Homo sapiens: one gene and its partner. The protein of the gene in region 2 interacts with the protein of the main gene of each other region in a pairwise test. Each region holds a gene or a part of one and is shown on either strand. Other genes may lie near its edges.

Region 1 (3,652 bases), on a different chromosome or scaffold from region 2:
GTGATCTTGCCTCTGCTTAACTCAAGTTTCATCAAGTACCAACTTACACAGTTTCAAGTACCACCTCTCCCTCACACCATCTCTTGTAACATTTTACTTCAGCCTTTATTTGATCATTTCAATTGAATTACTACTGTTTCCCCAAATGAACCATGTCCTTAATGGCCCCTGTACCTTTACACATATCATTCCTTCTGCCTGGATGTCTCTTGATGGCTCCTCCCAAACTCTTTGCAATTTAGACATACCTTCCACTGAAAAGCCTTCCCTAGTCACTCCAAGACCCTATCCCATGACCATGTTCCAAGAATACCCATATTTAGTCTTTTCAGAGCCCTTAGCACACTGTAATGTAACTGTTTACTTTTCTATATCTCTTCCCCTAAACTATGAGCTCCTTAGGGACAGACACTACTACTTTTTATTTGTAGCACCTAGAACAATGCCTAGCACATAACAGGCATTCAATGAAATATTGCCACAGGATAAATGAATGAATGGATGGATGGATGAATGGATGAATATGGACAATGTAGAACTTTGAGGAGTCTAATCAAAACACCAAACTGGCCAGGCACGGTGGCTCATGCCTGTAATCCCAACACTTACAGGCCGAGGCGGGTGGATCACCTGAGGTCAGGCGTTCGAGACCAGCCTGGCCAACATGACAAAACCCTGTCTCTACTAAAAATATGAAAATAAAAAATATGAAAATTAGCTAGGCATGGTGGCACATGCCTGGTTCCAGGTACTTGGGAGGCTAAGGCAGGAGAATTGCTTGAACCTGGGAGGCAGTGGCTGCAGTGAGCCAAGATTGCGCCATCGCACTCCAGCCTGGGCGATGGGTGAGAATCTGTCTTTAAAAAAAAAAACAAAACTCCAAACTGTATTTAAAATCTAAAATGTAGCTAGCTGCTCCATTAGAGTAGCTACATAAGTAAGACTTATAATCTCTCAAATGCATATATTGGGAAAGAGGAAACAAAAAGAATATCACAAACATATTTTCTATTTTATAGTCTCACACTAGTTAAGATAAAGCCGAATGTTTACATCGAAAGGATTGATGGAAGGTGCTCAGCTATGAGCTAAGAAGGGATCACCAGAAGATCATTTGTGTGCATGCTTTTCTGACTCCTGGCAGGAGAGTGCTAGGCTACTTTTTGGGCTCTCACCAAGTCCTGCAGTTCTCTCAGTTGTTTTCCTGTCAGTCCCCCAATGCCCAGATCCTCCTCGTCCTCTTCTGGCTGGGCACTGACATTACCAGAAGATGGCCCCTGTTTGATAAAGAATTCTTCATGCTGGTCCAAGAGGAGTCCATGGAGCATCCAGGCTGAGAGCTGTTTATACATGACCCCATGACAAACGGCCAGGATTCTGGGCAGAGTAGAAAGTAAGAGGCTCAGAAGTCATGCTTTAAACTGTTACAGGATAAACAGAGGCCTGAGAATTTGATGAGTCATAACAGAAATAACCAATTAAGTTAAAAATAATTGTGCTATTTTAATTTAAATGTGGGTGAACTAACTCACTGAATTTCCATATTTGCAGCCTACACAATGAAATCTAAAATGTTCAGTATATGTGCTGATATTATTTTAGGGAAGACATTTTCTTCCCTTCTTTTATGTAATTTTCAAAACTGATGGGTCCTAAATATGTACAACTGTTTTATAGCAATAAAAAATAAAAATAATAAAAAATTTTAAAAATCGACTTAATGGAGTCTCTTTTTGGCTAACACAGTATTAAATTTGTTTTATTTTTGTTGGAATCACTTAGGGAGAGAATATTCAATACGTGAGTGCCAGGTATACATGAAAAACCATTATCTAGCAAAATTCAGAAACTAAAACAAAATGCAGAATGGTTGTTGGGGAATAGGATATTCAGATGGTCTCAAAGGATCACCCACCAGATAGCATATTAATTAAAAAGGGGAAAATGTACCTCTATAATGGAGCAGGACGTGATGAAAACACCTAAGCCAAGTGATCCAACTTCATAACATCCGTGATGGGATAAAGTTACTTTCTGTACCTTCTAATATGATGTAATGGGAAATAATATCACCTACATAGTATTCTTGCCAAAAAATGTTTAATCTGAATCTAATCATAGGGAAACAATAAATCCAGATTGTGAAACATTATACAGGACAGCTGGTCAGGACTCTTAAAATGTCAGCGTCATCCAAAACACCAAGAACAACAAAAGGCAAGGGGGACGGTTCTAAATTAAAGGAGACTAAAAAGACATGAGAACAAAATGTAGTATGTGAACACTGATCGGATCCTGGATTGCAAAAAAAGAACAGCTATGAAGGAATTCTGAGGGACAACTAGAAAAATTTGGATATAGTATTACTGAATTAATGTTAACTTTCTTGGGTGTAATATGGAATTGATGTTCTATAAGAGAATCCCTTTTTCTTTTATTTTTCTTTTTTTCTTTTTTCTTTTTTTTTTGAGACAGGGTCTCACTCTGTTGCCCAGGCTGGAGTGCTGTAGCACGATCATGGCTCACTGCAGTTTCGACCTCCTGGACTCAAGCCACCCTCCCACCTCAGCCTCCTAAGTAGCTGGGCCCACAGGCGCACACAGCATGCCTACTTTTTTTGTATTTGTAGAGACGGGGTCTCACTATGTTGCCTGGGCTGGTCTCCTAGGCTCAAGCTATCCACCCACCTTGGCCTCTCAAAGTGCTAGGAATACAGGTGTGTGCCACCATGCCCAGCCAAGAATGCCTTTTTTCTAAAGTGATACAAGCTGAAGTATTTAAGTGTTAGGGTATCTGTGACTACTTTCAAATGACTCTGCAAAAAAATTTGTGCATTTCACATATACGTATAGAAGGAGAAAAAGAGAAATCAAACGTGGCAAATGTTAACAAATGGTGAAACTAAAGGATACACTAGCGTTTGGTTGGTTTTTTTTGTTTTTTGTTTTGAGACAGGGTCTCATTCTGTCATCCAGGCTGGATTACAGTGGCGAGATCTCAGCTCACTGCAGCATCAACCTCCTGGGCTAAAGCAATCCTTCTGCCTCAGCTTCCCGTAGCTGGGACTACAGGCAGGCACCACACCTGGCTAATTTTTTTATTTTTGGTACAGACAGGGTCTCGCTATGTTGCCCAGGCTGGTCTCGAACTCCTGGGCTCAAGCGATCCCTCTGCCTCAGCCTTCCAAAGTGCTGGGATTACAAGCGTGAGCCACCGAGCCCAGCCTACAAGTGTTTTATTATACGTTTCTTTCAACTTTTTTGTAGGTTTAAAATTTTTCAAAATAAAAGGTTGGGAGAAAAAGAAATTACAAGAACTTGACTGTGTTATTTAACTGAATGGAATCTCTCTTTAAAAAGATCAAATGTGAAGCTATTTACATTTATGCATTTCTGAGTATGTGGTCTGTAAAGTTTGGTCCCTGCAAACACAGAACAAACATGTATATATAGTATCATCTACATTAGATTTTATATTCTATACACAAAAGTATAATAGAGAATTAAGTCCCTAAGGAATGTTCTGGAGGATTTACTCATGCAGTGGTTAGAGTGGAGATTAAGAGTTGTGAGTGGCCGGGTGCGGTGGCTCACACCTGTAATCTCAACACTTTGGGAGGCCAAGATGTGAATATCGGTTGAGCCTAGGAGTT
Region 2 (3,350 bases):
CTTTCTTTCTTTCTTTCTTTCTTTCTTTCTTTCTTTCTTTCTTTCTTTCTTTCTTTCTCTCTCTCTCTTTCTGTCTCTCTGTCTCTCTCTCTCTCTGTCTCTGTCTCTCTCTTTCTTTCTTTTTTTTGAGACAGTCTTGCTCTGTTGCCAAGCTGGAGCGCAGTGGCGCCATCTTGGCTCACTGCAACCTCCACTGTCCGGGTTCAAGCGATTCCGCTGCCTCAGCCTCCTGAGTAGCTGGGATTACAGGTGCACGCCACCACACCCGGCTATTTTTTTGTATTTTAGTAGAGACGGGGTTTCACCATGTTGGCCAGGATGGTCTGGATCTCCTGACCTCAGGATCTGCCTGCCTCGGCCTCTCAAAGTGCTGGGATTACAGGCGTGAGCCACTGCGCCCAGCTGACAGGTATTTTTCAACCTCTGCCACTCTCTCTCTCTCCCCACTTTTGGAGTCCCCAGTGTCTCTCGTTCCCATCTTTGTGCCCATGTTTATACCCAGTGTTTAACTCCCAGTTGTAAGTGAGAATATGCAGTATTTGGTTTTCTGTTCCTAAGTTAATTATCTTAGAATAATTGCCTCCAGCTGCATCCATGTTGCTGCAAAGGACATGATCTTTTTTTGTGGCTGCGTAGTGTTCCATGATGTATATGCACCACATTTTCTGTATCCAATCCACCATTGATGGGCACCTGGGTTGATTCCATGTCTTTGCTATTGTGAGTACTGCTGTGATGAACACACAAATGCAGATCTTTTTGGTAAAATGGTTTATTTTCCTTTGGGTAGATACTCAGTAATGGGATTGCTGGGTCAAATGGTAATTCTATTTTTAGTTCTTTGAGAAATCTCCAAACTGCTTCCTATTGGAGCTGAACTCATTTGCATTCACACCAACAGTGTATTTTTTGTTTCAGTAACTCAGGGGAATGAGACTCTTCTCTTCAGCCAGATGGGAAATTCCTTGCAGTCAGAGACCATTTCTTGGCTTCTCTCCTGCTGAAGAGTCCCCATACCTAGAACTGGGCACAGAGTGGGCACTGCAGAGTCCCTGAGGATGAGCAGGGGCTAGTTCTGCCCCCCTTGTGACCCTCCATCCCTCCCTTGGGAGAGGAGGCCATTGTCTACCATTTAGTTTCTGTATCTGGTTCCTGCTGAGATCGGCTGGCATGGGGTCCCTCTGAAATGCTGTCTTAGTTTGGATTCTCCCAAAAGCGGTCCCTGAAATGAGGACTGGGGTGCATGTGGTTTATTTGGGAGGTGATTGCAGGAAGCATTGGTAGGGAGTGTAGAAATGAGTCAGGGAAGGGAAGAAAGCCTGTCAATGGTGTGTGAATGAGCAGGGGACCTGGATCTCTGCCACAGAGGCCAAGCCAGTGAGAAGAGAAAACTCACCCCTGCTGTGGTTGCCTTGGGTCCATCATGGTCAGGGCCGGCCCTATGTGCCATCTCTCTGGCTGCTTGAACTCAACTAGCAGGCCATCAGCTGGGCCATTGCTGGTTTCCACGGACACACTCTATGGTGACCAAGTTGCTATCTGGTGTTTGACTTTAGGGGGCTTCTCCCCTACTGGTTGGCTAGAAGTGGGCACCATGTGGCTGACCTTGGAGCTGACCCGCTCCCAGCCTCCCTGGCTGGCCTGGCCTGGTTTTCATAGTGTGGCAGTAGGACAGGTCGCTTGGGTATTGTGGAAAGCACATGGCATCTGTTTGTCCGCCTGGAAGTGCTTGTCCAATTCTCAGGAGGCCTCTGGGCCCACACCAGGTATGGTCTCATCTGCAGGGCTGTCCCCAGACTACTAGATCCTGGGGCCACCAAGGAGATCCTGGGCCTCTGCTCCGGCCTCCATAGCAGTCCCACTCCCGGCTGTTCTGAGGGCCCTTGGTTTCTCTGTAGGTCTGGGACGAGGCCAATCTGAGGGCGCAAGAGTTGGCCAAGAGGGACGGCTGGGAGAATGTCCCCCCGTTTGACCACCCCCTAATATGGTAAGGCTGACGCCCCTCTCCCCAGGAGTCCAGAGCTGGGAGACCTTCACTGAGTCAGGGTCCTCCCATTGGGCAGAAGGAGAAACTGAGGCCCAGAGGGGAGAAGAGGCTTCAAAGCCAGGCAGACATGGGTTCAGATCCCACTTCTGCCCCCTTGTGAATTGTGGGACTTTGTGCAAAGCACCCCAGATCCTGTGCCTCAGTTTCTATGTGTGTAAAATGGAAGTGATAGTACCAAGTCTCCTTTACTGAATATGTGCTTTGGGACCAGGCACCAGGCTAATGGCTCCTCCTGCACTGTTCTATTTACCCTCCCCAAAGCCCTAGAGGTGGGTGCTATTATCCCCATTTCATAGGTGAGGAAACTGAGGCACATCGAGGTCAAACAACTTGCCCCGGATCACACAGCTAAGTACATGGCAGATACAAAGGGCTGCAGTCAGGCTGGTCCCAAGTGATACACTTGTCCCCTCTTAACCACACATTGCCATTGCCTCTTTGCAAAGTTGGGGAGGGGGCTAAATTGGGATAATGTCCAAGAAAGGGCCTGGGAGGTTGATGGAGATGGGAAGGGATGAGCAAACAAATACATAATAAAGAAAATGAATGAGGCCAGGCGCGGTGGCTCACGCCTGTAATCCCAGCACTTTGGGAGGCCGAGGCGGGTGGATCACCTGAGGTCAGGAGTTCGAGGCCAACCTGGCCAACATGGCAAAACCCTATCTCTACTAAAAATACAAAAATTAGCTGGGCGTGGTGGTGCGCACCTTTAGTCCCAGCTACTCGGGAGGCTGAGGCAGGAGAATCGCTTGAATCCAGGAAGTGGAGGTTGTAGTGAACTGAGATCGTGCCACTGCACTCCAGCCTGGGTGACAGAGTGAGACTCTATCCAAAAAAATAAAAATAAAGAGAATGAATGAAGCTGAGTGAAGTAACTGTTGCAGGACTTCCTCTCCCCTCACCGTGGATGGGATGGGGATGGTGGGGAGGGGTTTATGTATATGAGGGGGCAGAGAACCCACCCCTGGTAAATTCCCCCACCACAGGAGCCATCTGGGCTGGGGTCCTCCCTCACTCTGCTTCTCCCTCTCACCCCCCCTCCCCAGGAAAGGCCACGCCAGCCTGGTGCAGGAGCTGAAAGCAGTGCTGAGGACCCCACCAGGTGCCCTGGTGCTGGCAGTTGGGGGTGGGGGTCTCCTGGCCGGGGTGGTGGCTGGCCTGCTGGAGGTGGGCTGGCAGCATGTACCCATCATTGCCATGGAGACCCATGGGGCACACTGCTTCAATGCGGCCATCACAGCCGGCAAGCTGGTCACACTTCCAGACATCACCAGGTGGGTAAGGGCTGGGGACATTTGTAGGG

What was found.
Region 1: the proteins of SDSL (region 2) and TUBGCP4 interact in a two-hybrid assay, tested with the Homo sapiens proteins (2 studies listed by BioGRID and IntAct).

What each region holds. Positions count from the first base shown.
Region 1 is NC_000015.10:43,381,028-43,384,679, reverse strand, and holds part of TUBGCP4 (gamma-tubulin complex component 4), read right to left. Parts: intron 1,378-3,652; coding exon 1,176-1,377; intron 1-1,175. UniProt on the Homo sapiens protein: Component of the gamma-tubulin ring complex (gTuRC) which mediates microtubule nucleation.
Region 2 is NC_000012.12:113,432,236-113,435,585, forward strand, and holds part of SDSL (serine dehydratase-like), read left to right. Parts: intron 1-1,898; coding exon 1,899-1,987; intron 1,988-3,093; coding exon 3,094-3,321; intron 3,322-3,350. UniProt on the Homo sapiens protein: Catalyzes the pyridoxal-phosphate-dependent dehydrative deamination of L-threonine and L-serine to ammonia and alpha-ketobutyrate and pyruvate, respectively. Also exhibits racemase activity towards L-glutamate and D-glutamate.